4 separate regions of the Homo sapiens genome follow, and regions 2, 3 and 4 are each linked to region 1. Evidence: fine-mapped expression QTL. A gene starts in region 1. Each other region holds a variant in brackets. All regions are shown on one strand. Distances are between the middles of the regions.

Evidence for each region.
Region 2: its variant is fine-mapped to the expression of ADAT1 in transverse colon (GTEx, PIP 0.99). The same link has a PIP of 0.9 or more in breast and coronary artery.
Region 3: its variant is fine-mapped to the expression of ADAT1 in cerebral cortex (GTEx, PIP 0.90).
Region 4: its variant is fine-mapped to the expression of ADAT1 in esophagus muscle (GTEx, PIP 0.97).

Annotation. Positions count from the first base shown.
Region 1 is chr16:75,620,715-75,626,048 of GRCh38, forward strand. It overlaps ADAT1 (adenosine deaminase tRNA specific 1), which reads right to left and starts at 2,567. Exons shown (of 10, transcript NM_001324445.2): 1 at 1,689-2,567; 2 at 1-106. The coding sequence starts at 85. RefSeq lists a silencer at 437-731 and enhancers at 800-1,320, 1,321-1,840, 1,841-2,360, 2,242-2,481, 2,361-2,880.
Region 2 is chr16:75,645,785-75,650,784 of GRCh38, forward strand. It overlaps KARS1 (lysyl-tRNA synthetase 1), which reads right to left and starts at 1,881. Exons shown (of 14, transcript NM_005548.3): 1 at 1,794-1,881. The coding sequence starts at 1,855. It overlaps TERF2IP (TERF2 interacting protein), which reads left to right and starts at 1,989. Exons shown (of 3, transcript NM_018975.4): 1 at 1,989-2,768. The coding sequence starts at 2,099. RefSeq lists enhancers at 1,734-1,913, 1,953-2,910, 2,844-3,113, 2,911-3,866, 4,445-4,524 and a silencer at 2,414-2,533. The variant C/G (reference allele first, on the strand shown) is at 2,061.
Region 3 is chr16:75,546,795-75,552,128 of GRCh38, forward strand. The region is part of intron 2 of TMEM231 (transmembrane protein 231); the gene reads right to left. Among named protein-coding and RNA genes, the nearest start is that of TMEM231, 6.8 kb to the right of the region's middle. RefSeq lists enhancers at 3,385-3,454, 3,495-3,554. The variant G/A (reference allele first, on the strand shown) is at 3,185.
Region 4 is chr16:75,597,634-75,602,904 of GRCh38, forward strand. ADAT1 (adenosine deaminase tRNA specific 1) reads right to left here. Exons shown (of 10, transcript NM_001324445.2): 10 at 1-2,715. The coding sequence ends at 2,583. Among named protein-coding and RNA genes, the nearest start is that of ADAT1, 23 kb to the right of the region's middle. The variant A/G (reference allele first, on the strand shown) is at 2,234.

The DNA of each region.
Region 1 (5,334 bases):
GGTTTGGCTCAGGCTTCCCCTTCTTGGGCAGCCTGATCCCATAGTGTTCATAGCATAGCTGAGCAATCTCATCCGCGGTCCACATGGTCTGAGCTGGTATTGAGACCTTGATCAAAAACCACAACCATCAGAAGTACGGAAAGGAGAACCAGTGCACGATGCTACAGCCTCTCATATCCATGCTTCGAGTCTTTCAAATGGAGCAGACCGAGGTTTCCCTATCTGGAACTCTATGGATCATTTTCTTCTACTATCTCCCTGCCCCCTTTTCATCTTTAATGAAAGATCAAAGAAACCCCAAATTCTACCAATCCCCAAAATTATTGTTTCAAGTTTTTCTTAATGTTATATATCTGATACATTTCTAAGGAGTCTGCATCCTCTACTCAACATTAAAGGACACGAGAAGGAAATGTCCTCACTACTCCAGTTTTCACTGGAAACGGCATGTAAAGGGTTGCAGACTCACTTGCTTTGGGCAGACCCTCACTGTATAAGGTTTATCTTTCTGGACAGATGTTCTTATCTGTCTTCTTTTTCCAGGCATTTTATTTTTCTCCTTTCCCCTACAGCAGAGTGTTTCTCTACCGCCCTCTAGTAAATCCCCACTGAAATGTTTCTCAGCAGTTACGTGTTCTCATAGAGCTCTACTTAAGGGTGTGGACTTTGGATTCACCCTTTCTGGGTTCTAATTTTGGCTTTGCCACAAATTAACTGTGATGCTGAATAGACTACTTAACCTTGCTGGGTCTGTTTCCTCATCTGTCAAAATAGTGATAACAATAGTATCTAACCTATTTAGATTATTGTGAAGATTAAATAATACTTAGGGTTACTGTGAGGGTTAAATAAGTAATACTTATAAAAAGCAATTGCTACTATGTTGAGCATAATTAAGGTCAACTGTGATTACTATTACAAAAAATAACATTTGATGATTTTCCTGGTTAATTTGCCTTGAGCTACCTGGTGGTGGGGGTGAAAGGGGGAGGGCTGTAATGGGCATAGAAAGCCATGAATTAAAAAACCATCAAGCAGATCCCTAGGATACTTTGCAGGGAAATCTCTCACTCTTGGCCCTATCAATGCTCACTAGGCACATCCTGATCTCATTTGGACTCAATTATACAAAAAGCTTCCCAGTAGAAGATGAGCTTGTGATAGACATAGCTAAGCACTGTAAAACCAAACTGAAGGCCGGGCGCGGTGGCTCACCTGAGGTCAGGAGTTCGAGGCCAGCCTGGCCAACGTGGTGAAACCCTGTCTCTACTGAAAATACAAAAAAATTAGCCGGGCGTGATGGCGCGTGCCTGTAGTCCCAGCTACTCGGGAGGCTGAGGCAGGAGAATCGCTTGAACCCGGGAGGCGGAGGTCGCAATGAGCCGAGATTGTGCCACTGCACTCCAGGCTGGGTGACAGAGCGAGACTCCCTCTCAAAAAAACAAAAAAGGCTTTCCTGAGCTCCAGTGCATGCAGCTTTTGAAAGATGGTATTGTTATGAATCCCCTGCAGCGCAACGTGCAGGCTCGCTACTGTAGTGAATGCTACTGGTAAATCAGACCACAGTGATTTAAAACAAAAATCTGCAGGAAGTGAGACCCTGTGACTTGAAAGTCAGAGGGCCAGGGCAAGCCTTGTCAAGAAAAGAAAGCATGAGATCCTAGAATCCTCGTTTGGAAGGGACTCACCTCTCATTTCTAGGGAGGCATCACAAGGCAGTATAGTTTATGAAGACCACCTGGCCATCGACCTGAAATTAAACCAGAGGTGCAATTCACAAACCTCGATAGGCAAGGCAGGTAGAAGTTGCCAGAAGAAACAGTGACTCTCTTTAAGATGAAGCAGCCCAGAACGGCATCATCTCACTCAGGTAGTGCGTCTGAATGAGCATGCACAATTGTTTAAATGAATAAATGTTTTGCTACACTGGGTCCATTATAATTCGAGCCTACACCCCCTCCTAGATCTTGAAAACTTGAAGAACTTCTTAGCTGAAAATAACAGCTCAGCTAAACAGGCATTTATTTGCCCACAAGACCGCATCTCTGAACAGTTTCAACAAGCTAAAAAAACTGACGTCCTTTCCAAAGAAAAGGAAGTCGGCTGCCAGGGGAGAAAAGGCTTCAGCGATGCTTGGAGGAAGGGACTCTGGTTTACGCTGGCTCCCTTCCTAAACACTTCCGGAAGCAGAGCCCCTTCCCGGCCGCTGGAGAAGCCTGGGTGGGACCCCGAGTCGGCCAGTTACAGGATAGGAGGTGCCAGGCAAGGCACTGAAGCCATGCAGTGAGAACAGCGTGAGCGCCTGATCCATTGGGTCCTGCGGCTGCCAGGCCAGAGGCCCCGCGCCAGGAGCTCTTCAGGCGCCGGCTGCTGACAGTTCCAGGCGTGGAGCGCCTTCCCACGTGAAACGCGTCCCGGAAGATACGATCCTCACAACCTCTTCCCTCAAAAACAGACTCGGCAAAGTTAGCCCGGATAAACCTGCCCCGTCGCCCCAGCGCCTCGCGGACGCTCCCCTCCCACCTTCAGGAAACGCGCCTAGAAGAAAGCGAGCTTAATCCGCCGGTAAGGCGGACGTGACGTCACAAAGCGCCGGTTCCTTTCGGCTCCCGCTCCCAGAGGCGCGCAGTGCATGCCGGGCCCTGTAGTTTTTCCGGGGAGTCGGTGCCAGGGCCGAGATTCCCGCGCTTCAAGTCCCGCAGCCCTGGCTGCGTCTTAGAGAGGCGTGAAACCGGATGATGGGAGCCGCTTGTTGGCTTAGATATTCCTTCAACTAGAATGACGTATCTTGCAGCACTCGGCTGAATTTTTTTCTTTTTCTTTTTTTTTTTTGAGACGGAGTCTTGCTCTGTTGCTCAGGCTGGAGTGTAGAGGCGCGATCTCGGCTCACTGCAACCTTCGCCTCCCGGTTCAAGCGATTCTCCTGACTATGCTGTATTTCTATCTGTAACATCACTGTCCAATAGATATATAATTCGAACCATATACGTAATTTAAAAATTTCCAGTAGCCTCATTAAAAGTCAAAATAGAAACAATCATATATATTTTATTTAACCCATACATCCCAAATAGTATTATTTCAACATATAATCAAAAAATTTTTTGAGATGGAGTCTCGCTTTGTCGCCCAGGCTGGAAGCGGCGCAATTTCGGCGCACTGCAACCTCCGTCTCCTGGCTTCAAGCGATTCTCCTGCCTCAGCCTCCCAAGTAGCTGGGATTACAGGCGCCCGCCATCACACCCGGCTCATTTTTGTTATTTTTAGTAGAGACGGGGTTTCGCCATGTTACCAGGCTGGTCTCGAACTCCTGACCTCAAGTGATCCGCCCGCCTCAACCTCCCAGAGTGCTGGGATTACAGGCGTGAGTCACGATGCCCGGGGTCGGTCTGTCTGTCTCATATATATATATATATATATTTTTTTTTTTTTTTTTTTTTTTTTTGAGACGGAGTCTCGCTCTGTCACCCAGGCTGGAGTGCAGTGGCGCAATCTCTGCTCACTGCAAGCTCCGCCTCCCAGGTTCACGCCATTCTCCTGCCTCAGCCTCGCGAGTAGCTGGGACTACAGGTGCCTGCCACCACGTCAGGCTAATTTTTGTATTTTTAGTAGATACGGGGTTTCACCATGTTAGCCAGGATGGTCTCGATCTCCTGACCTCGTGATCTGCCCGCCTCGGCCTCCCAAAGTGCTGGATTACAGGCGTGAGCCACCGCACCTGGCTGCCGAGTCTCAATATTTTAAAAAATACTTATGTTCTGTTCTGTTTTTAATGCGAAGTTTAAGAAATCTGGTGTGTGTTACACTTAGAATACATCCCAATTTGGATCAGCCACATTTCAGATGCTGGATAGTCACATGTGGCTACTGGCTACTGTAGTACAGTACTACTACAGTGTAGTGGGCAGAACAGGTCTAAAAACCTTTGGATTGCCGGGAATAAGTAATATAGCTGCCTGGATACTTCAGGGGCCTTTGTCACCCAGTAACTGAATGCTCTATTACTAAAAATGAAAGAATTCATTTTTCTTTGTTACCCCTCAAAAATTTATGCAACTTGCTCAACCCCATCCTTCTCTCTAGTTCAAAGGAAATGGGACATGGCCCTCCTCCAAGGCCAAAGACTTTGCTCCTCATTCCTCTCCAATATCTTTAATCTGCAAGTGACTGCCTCTTCTGTCTTTTAAGAAATATTCCAGTGGGGGTAAGGGGTATCAAAGACCTTCTTCTAGGGTTCTTTATCTCAGGGATTGGTATTACTAGCAATCTAGTTGCGTAACTAAAAAGTGAGTCATGTTCCTTGTTATCTCCCTTCCCTTAATCCCCTTAGTGCAATCCATTACCAAGTCCTGTTGATCTTACTTCCTATCTCTTGAATCCATCCATTTCTCTCCACTTGCATGCCAATACGCTAGTAAAAGCCACTATCGTATTCCTCTTGGATTGCTACACTCATCTCTGAATTTCCACCTTTTCTTGCTTAACTCCAATTCATTTTCCACAGAGCAGCAAGACTAATCTTTTCAAACTGCAAATCTGGTGTCAGATTTGTGACTACTACACATTTACTGCTTAAATAATACTTCAGTGAATGCCTTCTCGGTACTTTTTTTTTTTTTGAGATGGAGTCTCACTCTCCTACCCAGGCTGTAACGCAGTGGCACAATCTCGGCTCACTGCAACCTCCGCCTCCCAGGGGCAAGCAATTCTACCTCAGCCTCCCCAGTAGCTGGGATTACAGGCACATGCCACAACACCCGGCTGATTTTTGTATTTTTAGTAGAGACGGGGTTTCACCCTGTTGGTCAGTCTGGTCTCAAACTCCAGACCTCAAGTGATCCGCCTGCCTTGACCTCCCAAAGTGCTGGGATTACAGGCGTGAGCCACCATGCCCGACTGGCTTCCCAGTACTCTTAAAATACAGACAAAAATCCCATAGTAGTGCTCACAGTCCTGCATGGCCAGCCCCTTCCTGCCTCACCTGGTGCCATATTTCTTTGGGCTTCTATACTCTCACTGGTCTCCATGTCCCTTCCTACCACAGGGCTTTTGCACTTGTTGCCATACCACGGAAAGCCTTCTTCCCTTCAGATCTCATGTCCTCAGAGAAACCTCCTCTAACTAGGTCCATGTCCATTATAGCTTCTCAACACCCCGTGGACCTCTCCTTCAAACCATTTACCTGAGCTGCCATTTTATACAATTTTGGAGGATGATTTATTACTATCTATTTTCTTTACAAGTGTAGATGCTTGATGAAGTTTGAGACCACGCCTGTTTCTGCTCACCCCAGCAAAGCAGTTAGCAAATTGTGAGCCTGCAACTGTTTGAAGA
Region 2 (5,000 bases), 25 kb after region 1:
TGCCGTGGGCTGAAATCGCACCGCTGCAATCCAGCCGGGGCAACAACGACTCTGCCTCCAAAAAAAAAAAAAAAAAAAAAAAGTCAGTAAAGAGGAATTAACCAGTTTTTTCCGTTTACCTAAAAACACACTCTGAACTGGAAACCGTGCTTTCACCTGTGATATACAGTCCTAAAGTTCAATTCAATGTAATTGATTATCATAGGTGGTTTGAAAGAATGAACTAAACTTTAGGATCGTATATCACAGATATACCACATTCAATTAAATTTGACTTAATAAAGTCAAGTCAATTTTCTCTAAGGTAGCAGTCCAAAGACCAGGTTCCAAACTTTTATGGAAGTCCATCGGATTGCTCTAATAAAGGACAATATATTAAGGTCCTACCCAACTATAAACTTCGACAATTTCTCTTATACTTTTTCTAAGATATTTGAAGCACAAAGCCAGGGACACAAAAGGAAACATCAGGCCAGGGGTGGTGGCTCAGGCTCACGCCTGTCATCCCAGCACTTTGGGAGGCCAAGGTGGGCGGATCACAAGGTAACGAGATTGAGACCATCCTGCCCAACATGGTGAAACCCTGTCTCTACTAAAAATACAAAAATTGGCCAGCCATGGTGGCACACGCCTGTAATCCCAGCTACTCGGGAGGCTGAGGCAGGAGAATCGCTTGAACCCTGGCAGCGAAGGTTGCAGTGAGCTGAGATCGCGCCACTGCACTCCAGCCTGGCGACAGAGCGAGACTCCATCTTAAAAAAAAAAAAAAAGAAACATCATTTCTCTTTTCTTTTTCATTCAGGGTCTGGCTCCGTCTCAGTAACTCCTTGGGGAAAGCGATGGAGAAGGGCTCGCTCACGCAGCACTTCTGGCAGTCCCTGAAGGACCACTACCTCAAGTCTCCCAGGCTGGAGTGCAGTGGCACGACTTCAGCACACTGCAACCTCCGCCTCCTGGGTTAAAGCGATTCTCCTGCCTCAGTCTCCCGAGTAGCTGGGATAACAAGTGCGCGCCACGGGGATTAAGCCCTCTCGTATGCCTCTGGAATGGTACTATGTACCATCTTCCTAGCAATGATAAAACACTCAATTACCTGTGTTCTGTGGTTCAAATGGGGAACGCTAATGAGAATATAAGACAGCCAGTTAAAGGGTGGCTAATCCTGACTTATCTATGTTAACCTACATACTCCAGGGATTTGGGAGTGGTTAACAAAGATATCAGGCTGAATTAAGATGGTCTCTACTGTTAGACGTTGATCACTTAATACTCACAGGTATCTACTGAATAACCCATACGGGTAGATGCATGACAGTTTTAGAACTGATCCCTTTTAATACATAACGTTCAGAATGACCTTAGTGAGGCCCAGAAAATTTTGAAGGTCTTTCTGAAAAGCTAGGGTATTTAACATTTCTCCAACTTCCACGTTTACTGAGTGGCTCAACAAAAGAATGCATTTCTCAGAAAGGAGGATGAAGCTAAGCAGGAAGTTTCGCTTTTCTTTTCTGATAACTCTTAGTTCTCGTCCTAGTTCCTCCTCCACAGTCTCTTAACTCTAGGAGTATGATAGGGAGCATCCCGCCGGTGCCAGCTGGGAACGGGGAGCCGGCGTGCCCGGGGTATCCCGGGGTACGTGGTCTGCAGGGCGCAGCCACCACGTCTCAGCATGTGCGTACCCACGAGAGCCGGCAAGAAGGCCCCGGCACAGCAGCCTTGGTGGGAACCTCGCGGCGCTTCCCAGCCCAGACTCTCCTACCGCAAAGGCTTTAAAGACTCGCAGCGACACTCACTTCTTGCTCAGTTTCGGCTCGCTGCCATCCACTTTCACCTCGGCCGCCTGCACGGCCGCCATCTTCCCGGAGGGCCCGACCCAAAAGTAAGGAGGATAGTACGTTAATTTCCAGGTCAAGGTGCGAAGCCCCACCTCTTCCGGGGGAGAGGGGGCGGGCACTCTCGATGCGCCGCGGCTGCTGCTGCGCAGGCCCAGTGCTGCGCTTCGCGGCAGAGGCGTCTGCGGTGACAGCTCAGTCAGTTGAGCTCTGTGTGCCAGGCGCTCG[C/G]GAGGGGGTAGCTCTTCTAGTAGTGCTCGGCGTCAGACATGGCGGAGGCGATGGATTTGGGCAAAGACCCCAACGGGCCCACCCATTCCTCGACTCTGTTCGTGAGGGACGACGGCAGCTCCATGTCCTTCTACGTGCGGCCCAGCCCGGCCAAGCGTCGGCTGTCGACGCTCATCCTGCACGGCGGCGGCACCGTGTGCCGAGTGCAGGAGCCCGGGGCCGTGCTGCTGGCCCAGCCCGGGGAGGCGCTGGCCGAGGCCTCGGGTGATTTCATCTCCACGCAGTACATCCTGGACTGCGTGGAGCGCAACGAGAGGCTGGAGCTGGAGGCCTATCGGCTGGGCCCCGCCTCGGCGGCGGACACCGGCTCGGAAGCAAAGCCCGGGGCCCTGGCCGAGGGCGCCGCGGAGCCGGAGCCGCAGCGGCACGCCGGGCGGATCGCCTTCACGGATGCGGACGACGTAGCCATCCTTACCTACGTGAAGGAAAATGCCCGCTCGCCCAGCTCCGTCACCGGTAACGCCTTGTGGAAAGCGATGGAGAAGAGCTCGCTCACGCAGCACTCGTGGCAGTCCCTGAAGGACCGCTACCTCAAGCACCTGCGGGGCCAGGAGCATAAGTACCTGCTGGGGGACGCGCCGGTGAGCCCCTCCTCCCAGAAGCTCAAGCGGAAGGCGGAGGAGGACCCGGAGGCCGCGGATAGCGGGGGTGAGGAGGCTGAGCGCGGGGCCTCGCGGATATCTGCGCGGGTGGGGTTGGGATCTTTCTCCTGGCTGCCTGGCGTCCATCTTGGCATCTTCGGTAGCAGCGCTTGGCCCCGCCCCCTGTTGACATCCGGGTAAATTTGCACCATTTTCTTGCCTTCTCGCTCCCTTGTTGTTTATTATTGTTCTTTTTTTGCGATGGGTCTCTGTTACCTAAGCTGGTCTGAACTCCTGAGCTCAAGCGATCCTCCTGCCTCGGCCACCCAAAGTGTTGGGATTACAGGAGTGAGCCACCACGTCTGGCCTCTCGTCGTTTTTATTTTTTAATTTTTGAGTGGGGGCTCGCTCCGTCGCCCAGGCTGTGATGCAGCCGCGCGATCACGACCTACTGCATCCTGGACCTCCTGGGCTCAAGCGAATCTCCGGCTTCAGCCTCCCAAGTAGCTGGAACTACACTCCCGCGCCACCACGTCCCGCTAAATTAAAAAAAAAATTGTTGTAGAGATGGGGGTCTCGTTGTGTTGCCCTGACAGGTCTCGAACTCTTGGGCTCAAGCGATCCTCCCGTCTCGGTGTCCCAAAGTGTTGGGATTACAGGCGTGAGCCATCACACCCAGCTTCTTGGTCTAGTTTTAATTTACTTTACCATTGACTAGAATATTGACATGGTTCTATATTCAAAAGTTACAAAAAGTATATAGAAAATTCTCTCTTGGCCGGGCGCGGCGGCTCAAGCTTGTAATCCCAGCACTTTGGGAGGCCGAGGCGGGCGGATCACCTGAGGTAAGGAGATCGAGACGAGCCTGACCAACATGGCGAAATGCCGCCCCTACTAAAAATACAAAAATTAGCCGGCCGTGGCGGAGAGTTCCTGTAGTCCCAGCTACTCAGGAGGCTGAGGCAGGAGAATTGCTTGAACCCGGGGGGCGGAGGTTGCAGTGAGCCGAGACTGCGCCACTGCTCTCCAGCGTGGGTGACAGAGCAAGACTCCATCTCAAAAAAAAAAAAAAATTATCTCGTCCTTCCTGTCCACCAGCTACCCACGGGCTAACTGGCTTCTTGTGTTTCTTTTAAGAGATATTCCACAGACTCCTTTTTAAAAAAGATTGCTGTTATGTTCAGGTAGATTCAGTATAAAGGCGTACCAGACTTACTTTAATGCTCTGGCGTAACTGAATGCCTATGGACTTAAGAAGGTTCTCGGCAGTTGGAAGGTCTCTTCCTGGTCTTGCTTAGGTGAAGTGAGTTTTTAATGCAGTTGAATTGAAAATTGGGGTTCAGTATGTCTAGGATACAGAACGAGTCTGTTAAGATGTACTTGGTGACGTACCTGGCATTGATAACTTAAACCGATAGACCCTTTTGTTTAAAGAGGCATGCTGCTTCTCCTCCCCCTCCGTAATCCTCCCACCTTTTCTTTGCCTGTATGACTACTCCATTTAACACTTGAAGTCTGGGGAGTAAAATCTTTTTCTCCTGTTCAGTATGCTTAGTAGGAATTTTGTTTTGGTAAAAGTGACATTTCAGCTTCATTCATTCAGCAGAAATTTGAGTGCCAGACATTGTGGTCCTGCTGGAATATAACAATAAATAAAAGTCCCTGTGGTCCTGGAGCTTATAACATGCTAGCTGGGGAGTGGTAAGGGCTATAGAGAAAAATAATTCAGAGTGTAAGGGTTGGGGAGGAGGTTTTTCCTATAGGATGATAAGAGAAGGTCATTCTCATAAGCTGATGTTTAAGCAGAGACCGAAGGAAGTGAAAGAGCAACCCAGGTGGATATCTGGGGAAGAGTGTTCAGGCAGAGGAAGAAGCCAGGGCAATCGCCCTTAGGTGGGAGTATGGCTGGTGTGTTTGGAGCCACAAAGAGAACAGAGTGGCTGTTAATGGAGTAGGAGGGAGAATTAATTATAGCAGATGAGGTTAGGGCTATGTGTATGGGTGAAGTATGTCATCATGTATGGCCTTGCTTTTATTTTTATTTTATTTTAATTTTATTATATATCTTGAGATGGGGTCTTGCTCTGTCACACAGGCTGGAGTGCGGTAGTGCGATCACGGCTCACTGCAGCCTTGACTTCCCAGGCTCAGTGGATCCTCCCACCTCAGCTTTCCAAGTAGCTGGGACTACAGGCACTCGTCACCATACCTAGCTAATTTTTGTATTTTTTTGTAGAGACAGGATTTGGCCGTGTTGCCCAGGCTGGTCTCGAACTCCTGGGCTCAAGGGATCTGCCCG
Region 3 (5,334 bases), 74 kb before region 1:
TCTTGATGTTGGATCTTATCTCATCATTCGTGTGAGGACCTGAAAGCCTTGTGCATCTTTTAGTAGCAATCAATGAAATGAAAAAGGAAGCTATGTCAAATCAGCAAAGTATTAAAACCATATCTATTTGATAAATTACGGGCATGAAAGGAAAGAAGACAGAGGTCTGTAGAGGAAAAAAGACAAAATACAGCTTATGAAGCATATGTAGGCAGTGAAAAAAAACTGGTATCCACTCCTACCATCCACAGTCTTGCCAAACAGTGATGCTAAAATGATGATCAGGAAAGCACGGTTACTGAAAAGTGATCACTGCTGACATGGTCCCTCTGCACAACTCTGGATCTTTTTGCTACAACTGATCCTTTCCCACTGTGGATTCCCAGAACAATTCTACTATCGTGTAGCAGCATTCCCATCTGGATCCACCATCTATGGATTCATTTTGATTCCCACCATTACTATTACGTAAGGAAGAGATTTTTTGTGTGTGTGCTTTTTCAGGCTAATAATAAGGTCATTTGAAATGAAGAAATCTCAATTTTCAGAAACTTTCAATTATTTCTTTCTTTCTAGACAATAATGTTCCTTCTCTTAGGTCTTGTTTTAGAGAAACCTCCCTCCCTTTTCTCTTGGATACTTCCTCTCTGCCCTGTTTCATCAGCTTCGGGGAGGGATATCTGCTACCAGGGCTGATGATCAAGTTACTGAGGCAATGATGGACTAGTCATTATAGGTAGGATGAAAAGAGCCTGCCTTGCGGATCATGAGGTCAGAAGATCGAGACCATCCTGGCCAACATGGTGAAACCCCGTCTCTACTAAAAATACAAAAATTAGCTGGGAGTGGTGGCACGTGCCTGTAATCCCAGCTACTCAGGAGGCTGAGGCAGGAGAATCGCTTGAACCAGGGAGTTGGAGGTTGCAGTGAGCCAAGATCTTGCCACTGCACTCCAGCCTGGTGACAGAGCGAGACTCCATCTCAAAAAAATAAAATAAAAAATAAATAAAAGAGCCTGCCTTGTCTCCTGTGGATTTTCTTCAATTGGGATCTGGGTAGAAAATCTTATGTAACTCTCTGTGATGGATCCACACCTTCTAGATCTTTAGGGTTGGACAGGAAGAAAAGAGCACATTTCTCAACTTGCAACAGAGGATAGTGGCCAGGAGACAACTGCCAGAAGAATCCAGACTCCAACACACTGTGGGAGGGGGAAAAGCTCATTTCCTTTGATCTTTACAATAAATGTAAAGCCCCAGGCAGGCAGAACAGGTATTTTCCCATTACACAGATGACAAAATCAAGGATGAGTGAGATTAGGGCATTTATCAGAGGTACAGCAAGTAATGGTGAAGACAGGATTTGAGATCAGGTGACTTCAAATCTGGTCCTCTTTTTAGGACCAAAATGTCTAAAATTATTTTAAAAATTCCAAATGAAGACAGCAGGTTGGACAAATCTTCCTGAAAAACAGCAGCACCAGGCATCTACGTCTGTATACTTGCCTGTGCACATCCTTCCATTCCAAGTTCGCGGGGGACAGATTTGGCACAACACCATCAATAGTGTCTACTTGTTAAATTCACTCATTGATCTGTTACGTACTTTTTGGAAACACGCCAGGCACTATTTCAAATAATGAGACTATAATGGTAAACAAAATAGACAAAGTCCCCATCCTAATGGGGCATACATTCCCGATGGACAATGTAGAAAACAGTGACAAGTGCCGCTGACAGAAATGAAGCAGGCTAAAATTAGAGAATAATGAAGGTAAAATTTAACAGAAATTGGCCAGGCGTGGTGGCTTATGCCTATAATCCCAGCACTTTGGGAGGCCCAGGTGGGTGGATTGCTTGGGCTCAGGAGTTCGAGAGCAGCCTGGGCAACATGGCGATACCCTGCCTCTATTAAAAATACAAAAATTAGCTAGGCATGGTGGCGTGCACCTGTAATCCCAGCTACTAGGGAGGCTGAGGCAGGAGAATCGCTTGAACCCAGAAGGTGGAGGTTGCAGTGAGCCGAGATCGTGCCTCTGCACTCCAGCCTGGTGACAGAGCAAGACTCTATCTCAAACAAACAACAAAAAAACCCAAAAAGAATTTAACAGAAATTTTTAAATATTCAGGATGACCCAACTTGTTGGAGTCCTGAAGGAAGTGAAGTGATGGGGTGCAGGAACATCTCAGAGAGGAGGGATCCAGGCTAATCAGGTACATGTGCTCTGGGTACCCGTGGGATCAATGCATCTGGCAGAGTGGGTGAGAAGGAGAGCAGGGTGGAGAGAGGGGGGAGAGAAGTTTCGATGGAAAGGATGTGTCTCCCACAAATGACCTGTCACCAAGCTGGACTCTCACCCTCCTGGGGCTGGCGAAGTTTGGCTGTGCTCCTCTGTTATCACTTGGACCACTGAATAAATCAATTATTTAATTCCATTTAGTTGAAAGTAAGTTTAACATATGTGCAATAGCTAACAAAGGCAGGCATTCAAAGGCTACTACTTCTTTAACACAAATTCTAGGTCGCTATCTAACCTCCAACTGGTACTTAGCCAAGAGAATTCACATATCACACCACCACCTTATATCTACAACGTATATACAGGCTTTGGAACAATTTTTATATCCATTCATTGTCCCACGTGATTCCTCTGCATATCCCAGGAGAGATGTGGGTACTCTCATGCCCTGTATATGGATAGATAAATTGAGGGTGAGGTTATGAAACCCAGTGACAGAATTGGGACTAGGACCTTGTGGGACAAGGATCTTGGTTTGCTGACTCCTGATTCAGGGCTCTTCTATAATAGCTCATAAGAACTCTAACTGAAAAGATTTCTCATGGTTAAAGGAGGATAACCCTTTAGAGATACACATGAAATCCACACGCATGTACTGAGCAGAGTCAGAGGGAATTTTTTTGTTTTTTTTTTGAGACGAAGTCTTACTCTGTTGCCCAGGCTGGAGTGCAGTGGCACAATCGCCACTCACCGCAACCTCCACCTCCCAGGTTCGAGTGATTCTCCTGCCTCAGCTTCCTGACTAGCTGGGATTACAGGTGTGCGCCACTACGCCCAGCTGATTTTTGCATTTTTAGTAGAGATGGGGTTTCACCGTGTTGGCCAGGCTATTCTCAAACTCCTGACCTTGGGTGATCTGCCCGCCTCAGCCTCCCAAAGTGCTGG[G/A]ATTACAGGCATGAGCCACCGCACCTGGCCAGAGGGAATTTAACATAGGGAATAAATAGTCCCATAGGTATTAGAGGACTGAAGACGTAAAAAGGGGATATCCCAGCAACACAGAGATAGTAGCTGCAGGGAACATTTCCCACACCTAGGACTAGAGAAGAAGGGGAAGCGGGTGGGACTGATAGAACTTAGAGGTTCAGGGAAGAGGCCTCGAAGAGCTGAGCCTCAGACTTCAAGAAGGGACCGCGGCCCAGATGGGGCCAGGACCTCTGAGCTTGGAGGAAGCATGCACTAGAGGGAACCTTGAAGCCGGTAGGAGAGGCGTCCTGCTCCTTCCTGTTTGCTGGTTGTCCCTGTTTGTGGCATCCACAGTGGTTCTTCACCCTGGCAGTGGTGACTGGTTTCATTTCTTTTTTTCTGCACTCCCAGAACAAGGCTCATCATGCCTCCTACTGGCAGAACCTAACAGGAAGCTGCAGGGGAAGAAGGTGGTTTCCAGCATCTCAGCAGGAACCTGGAAGCTGAGCGTAGGAGGGTGGGTTTGGAGCTGAGACAATACCTCATAACCAGCACACCACCTGACTGCAGGAATTGCCAGAAATTCAAGTGCCATTGTTTCCAGAGTATCCTGATGTGTGACTTTTTTCCCCGTCAGGAATTCCCAGCATCTGACGGTTTGTTGGAATTTTGTTTGGTTTCTGTTTTGTTTGCGTACATTTCATTCATTTAAGTCGTATTCTTTTTTTTTTTTTTTTGAGATGCAGTCTGGCTCTGTTGCCCAGGTTGGAGTATGGGTGGTGCAATCTCAGCTCACTGCAATCTCCGCCTCCCGGGTTCAAGCAATTCTCGTGCCTCAGCCTCCCAAACAGCTGGGATTACAGGAACCTGCCATCACACCCGGCTAATTTTTGTGTTTTTAGTAGAGACGGGGTTTCACCATGTTGGCCAGGCTGGTCTAGAACTCCCTACCTCAGGTGATCCATCCGCCTCGGCCTCCCAAAGTGCTGGGATTACAGGCGTGAGCCACTGCGCCCGGCCCATATTCTTTTATTAAAGGTTAATTTCCTAGTTTATACCAGTGTCTATTTCACCATATACTTGTCATCACCGGGTGCTCCTTTCTTTTTAAGCTAAAAATACTCTTTGGCACCAGTTGTGGGTCTCTAGCAAAGCAGAAACTGCCACTTCGTGGTTCCTTTCCACCTTTCTACCTGTATTTCTTTTTTTTTCTATTTCTTTTTTTCTTGATACAGGGTCAAAAAAGGCTAGAGTGCAGTGGCACGATCACAGCTCATTGCAGCCTTGACCTCTCAGGCTCAAGTGATCCTCCCACCTCAGCCTCCTGAGTAGCTGGGACTATAGGCATTCACCACTACCCCTGGCTAATTTTTAAATTTTTTATAGTAGGGCCTCACTATGTTGCCTAGGCGGTCTGGAACTCCTGAGCTCAAGGGGCTAGCCTCCCAAAGTGCTGAGATTATAGGCATGAGCCACAGTGCTCAGCCTTGTATTTCAATCTAAGATACCATTACTTATAAAATGAACCATTATTTTATATACCACTGATAAAAGAAAAACATTTCCAATTAAACTATGACACTTTTCTAATCACTTACTTTTTAAAAAGTTACTAAAAGAGCTTTTAGATTTAGACATATTTACACAGATATGTTTATTTACTTAGAAAAATATAAGCAAAATAGGTCGGGGCAGTGGCTCACGCCTGTAATCCCAGCACTTTGGGAAGCCGAGGTGGGTGGATCACCTGAGGTCAGGAGTTCGAGACCAGCCTGACCAACATGATGAAATCCCGTCTCTACTAAAAATACAAAAATCAGCCGGCCGTGGTGGTGCCTGCCTGTAATCCCAGCTACTCATGAGGCTGAGGCAGGAGAATCGCTTGAACCCAGGAGGCGGAGGTTGCAGTGAGAAGAGATTGCGCCACTGCACTCCAGCCTGGGCAACAGAGTGAGACTTCATCTCAAAAAAAAAAAAGAAAAGAAAAGAAAGAAAAATATAGGCAAAATAAATTGATTCAGGGATTCCTAAAACTTCTTTACATCCTCATCCTTTTGAGTAACACTTTAACTCAGTCAACAACCCATACTTTTCTATGCAACTTTGTCCTTTGTGCCATCAAACATGTTGGT
Region 4 (5,271 bases), 23 kb before region 1:
ACTCACCATAAGGTAGAATCAGTAGGAGCCCTGAGCTTGTTTTCCTGCAACTAGACAGTCCCATATGGGGGTTATGGAAGACACTGACAGATCATCAGGCATTATATTCTCATAAGGAGTGTGCAACCTAGATCCCTTGCATGCACAGTTCACAATAGGATTCACGCTCCTATGAGAATCTAATGCCACTGCTGGTATGACAGGAGGAGGAGCTACGGCAGAAATGTGAGCGATGGGGGGCAGCCATAAATACAGATGAAACTTCAAGTGCTCACCTGTTACTTATCTCCTGCTGTGTGACCTTGTTCCTGACAGGCCACAGACAAGTAATGGTCTGTGGCTCTGGGGCTGGGGGCCCCTGCCCTAAAGCTTTTAGAGGAAGCAGAAGCCCCACCAACAACCTGTTTGGACTTCTAGCCTCCAGAACTGAAAGGGGATACAGTCTTTTCTTCTTATTTTTTGAGATGGAGTCTTGCTCTGTCACCCAGGCTAGAGTGCAGTGGCACGATCCTGGCTCACTGCAACCTCCACCTCCTGGGTTTGAGAGATTCTTCTGCCTCAGCCTCCTGAGTAGTTGGGACTATAGGCGTGCGCCAATACACCTGGCTAATTTTTGTATTTTTAGTAGAAAGGGGCTTCACCATGTTGGCCAGGATGGTCTTGATCTCCTGACGTCGTGATCTGCCCACCTCGGCCTCCTAAAGTGTTGGGATTACAGGCGTGAGCCACTGCACCCGGCCAGGAATACATTTCTGTTGTCTTAAGCCACCCAGCTTGTGGTACTTCGTTAAGAAACAGCTCTAGGAAACTATTACAGGCACAAAATTTGTGATGAAAATGTTCTAAAATTGATGGTTGCACAACTCTGTGGATATACTAAAAAAATTTTTTTTTTTTTTTTTTGAGACAGGATCTCACTCTGTCACCCAGGCTGGAGTGCAATGGCATGATCTTGACTCACTGCAACCTCCGCCTCCCAGGTTCAAGTGATTCTCCTGCCTCAGCCTCCCAAGTAGCTGGGACTACAGGCGTGCACCACCATGCCCGGCTAATTTTTGTATTTTTAGCAGAGACGGGGTTTCATCATGTTGGCCAGACTGGTCTCGAACTCCTGACCTCAGGTGATCTGCCTGCCTCAGCCTCCCAAAGTGTTGGAATTACAGGCGTAAGCCACCGTGCCCGGCCTAAAAACTTTTAAAATGTATACTTTAGTTGGGTGAATTTTATGGTCTGTGAATTATATCTCAATACAACTGTTATTTAAAAATATTTATAGCCACAAAATGCTGAAGAACCAATAAGGACCTTGAGTAACCCCAACATGGGAGCTTCCATTTTCAGTCAATCATTCAAGGTCTGAAGTTGAGTGTTAAACATTCGATGTTAAAACAGGATTGGCTGCTGGGTCTATTGCTGATTTGCTGCAGGGCCTTTTGGCTTCTTTTTTTTTTTTTTTTTTTTTTTTTGAGATAGGGTCTTGCTCTATCACCCAGGCTGGAGTGCAGCGGTACGATCTTTGCTCACCACTACCTCCGCCTCCTGGGTTCAAGCAATTCTCCTGCCTCAGCCTCCCGAGTAGCTAGGATTACAGGTGTGCGCCACCATGCCCGGCTAGTTTTTGCATTTTTAGTAGAGACAGGGTTTCACCAGGTTGGCCAGGCTGGTCTTGAACTCCTGACCTCAAGTGATCTGCCTGCCTGGGCTTCCCAAAGTGCTGGGATTACAGGCCTGAGCCACCAAGCCTGGCCACCTTTTGGCTTTTTGGACAGAACTCTTTCAATTGTAAGTCAGAAAACCAACACAAACAGGCTTAATCAAAATAACAACAGGAATCTGTCTCACATAATTGAGACATCTAAACAGTGTTACTAGATCTTTGATTCTCTTGGCTGTTTCCTTTGTTGCCTTCATTCTTTGCTGGCTTTCTCTAGGTAGTAGGAAAAGATGGCCACCGGCAGTCCCATGATTATGTGACCCTTACAGCTCCAGATCAAAACAGAAAGCCTTTCCTGATACCTCTGAGAACAAGTCCAGGGCAGTCCAGGGCTGGCTCACAGGCTATTCCTAGAGCCAGGGAGTAAGGTTAGCTTCAGCCAAGTCTGAGGCACAGAGCAGGATCACTGAAGAATGGGAAAAGAATGGCTCCCTGAAGAAAGAAAGGCTGGGAATACAAAATATATATTCGCTATGCTAGGCAAAGCTGTAAAACTTGCAGAGCGTCAAACATCATTTC[A/G]GCTCAATAAATATTTGCTGAATCAATGTAGGAACCCATAAAACAGAGCTGCTGCAGAGTACTTTCAAAGCATCATGTTCCAAACTCTGATTTCATATTTTAGAGAAGCAATAAAACACAATGGAAGTCAGATAGTGAGGTCATTAGTGAGATGCCATTTTAGCAGAGAGCTACTTCAATCAAGTATAGCTTGCTCTAAGTTCCAGATTCCATCTGTATTACACAACAGAGATGCAAAGCTCAGAAAGAATGTTCCCTGATTTAACTACCAAAAAAGCTAAGACTTGTCCTGCGTGGAGGAAGGCAGTTCAGGATGAAGGGTCCTGCTACCAGAGCAAACATTTCCTTCTCACTTGAACTGGTGATAATCCGGTGGGTTTCTGATCCAGGATCCAAACACCTGCTTCCGGAGTGTGCTCCAGGCTTCCTGGTAAGAGGACGCAGCCTCCTTGTACTCCTGGTAGGTATCCAGCTTCTGCACCCTAATGCACACAGGCCACCAAATACACAGGTTCTCATTGAATAGCCCACCCCAGGGGCCACCAGACACCTGAGCAAGCAACTGGACAGACTTGTAATGAGACTTAGGTAGAGAAGGAGTTCAGTATGCTTTTGTGAAAGTTGATCATACAAACTACGTTATTCTTGTCATACTCAACTGAAACAGAGTTGAGAAGCCAGGGGTAAAAAACACTCAGGGCGCATAACATTGCTCCAAGAATGCATTCTCTGCAAGCCTGGCTGCTAAAACTGCCTGCCAGTTTTATCTAACAGCTACTGAACCAACCTGCTGCAGACTTTAAGAATAGTTTTACCCAGTGCCATCACTTGGCAGCTCCTCACTTTACTCATGTCAATGAACCTTCTTCAACAATATGTTACATTTCTTTTTTGAAAAATAAAACCTCTAACCTTCCCTTTGTTCTTCAGACATATTGAAGACCACCCAGTCTGTATGTCTTGAATTTCTTGTATCCCAAATAAAATATTAAATTTAGAGATTTATCTTTACATTTTTATTTTGACTTTTGACACTTTCCTAGAGCAACTCTGTCTCCTTTGTAGGGAATTCACGAGAAAGCAACATGAATTAAAACAGTTAAGAATGAACAGAATTCTAGGTTTCTATGGTCCTAGTGGAATCAGATAAAATAAAAACAACTGTCTACTTTTTTGGTTTAAAAGTTTTCTAGGCCAGGCATGGTGGCTCACACCTGTAACCCCAGCACTTTGGGAGGCCGAAGCAGGCGGATCACCTGAGGTCAGGAGTTTGAGACCAGCCTGGCCAACATGGTGAAACCCCATCTCTACTAAAAATACAAAATTAGCCGGGCGTGGTGGCAGGCACCTGTAGTCCCAGCTACCTGGGAGGCTGAGGCAGGAGAATCACTTGAACCCAGGAAGCGGAGGTTCCTGTAAGCTACGATTGTGCCACTGTACTACACAGACTGGGCGACAGAGCAAGACACTGTCTCAAAAAAAAAAAAATACAGTAACTACTAGTTATCAAAACCCTACTACAAACCAGGCTCTTGGTCACATGCAACACTTCCCTTAATTGTCTCAGCTACCCTGTCTCAAAAACAAACAAACAAACAAACATACATACATGCCAGGCGGTGGCTCACGCCTGTAATCCTGGCACTTTGGGAGGCTGAGGCAGGTGGATCGCCCGAGGTCAGTAGTTCAAGACCAGCCTGGTCAATATGGTGAAACCCCGTCCCTACTAACTATACCAAAAATTAGCCGGGCGTGGTGGCGGGTGCCTGTAATCCTAGCTACTCTGGAGACTGAGGCAGGAAAATCACTTGAACCTGGGAGGCGGAGGCTGCAGTGAGCTGAAATTGTGCCACTGCACTCCAGCCTGGTTAACAGGAGCAAAACTCTGCCTTAGAAGTATCTCCTCACCTAAATTCAGATTTGACATATAGAATATATGGAAACCCAAGAAAGAAGCCAACTGACCACAGATCCATCACTTCAGTATGCATGATGGCGATGCCTCTTCATATAGAAGTTTCTAGCTACTCCTTAGTTTCCCCACTGTCATATAATGAAGGATTCACTTGGTCTTTGTCACCAGTTCCCGGGAGCCTCTAAGCTTTGGAGTTTCTGCAAGTGTCTTTGTCCTGCATGGTAGATCTCGCTGATCACACGTGAGTTTCTGTTTAACCAGGTGACTCATGGTGGGCCCCCGAGATAGTTTCAGGATGATACCGGCCATGCCAGAAAGACCAACCATGTAGAGAATTAGGGCTCTGAGACACGTGATATCAGTTTGAACTCTTGGGAGAGGAGGAGGTTGGAGATTAAGTTCAATCACATCATGTGGCCAATAATTCAATCAGTCATAATAGTTAATGAAACTCCAACAAAAACTTTGGACACTGATGTCTGAGTGAGATTCCTAGTTGGTGATGCGCAGCAATGTGCTGGGAAGGTGATATGTCCTGAGGACATGGAAGCTCTGCCTTTGCGACCCTCCCATATCTTACCCTATATCTCTCTCCTTTTGGCTAGTACTGATCTGTAGCCTTCATAATAAAACTTTAATGGCAACTATAGTGCTTTTCTGAGTTCTGAGAGATGTTCTAGTGAATGACTGAACGTGAAGGGGAGTGGAGACACTCAAATTTGTAGCCAGTTGGTCAGAAGTATGGGTGGTTTGGGGCTTTCCTTAACTTGTGGTAGTTGTTTGAAATGAAGACAGTTTAGTGGGAACTGTGTCCTTCACCTGTGAAACTTCACCTAAATCTAGGTGGTCACTGTCAGAATGTCACTGCACCCATCTACCTGTTCCCAAGAGTGGTTTTAAAGTTCTTTGAATTTTTGTTTGAAGAGCAATTTAAGTCATGGAGCTGCAAGTTCAAAAGGAAAAGAGGAGTAACACTTGTAACAGAATATATTGCTCTTAGAGCACTCCCATTTCCACAGTGATCTCCATCTAGAGGTGGAATCAAAGGAGGGCCTGGAATGGCCAAGCCCCAGTTCTATCCTTAGTTTTTTATAACTCTATACCACCAAACTACCCATCCTCT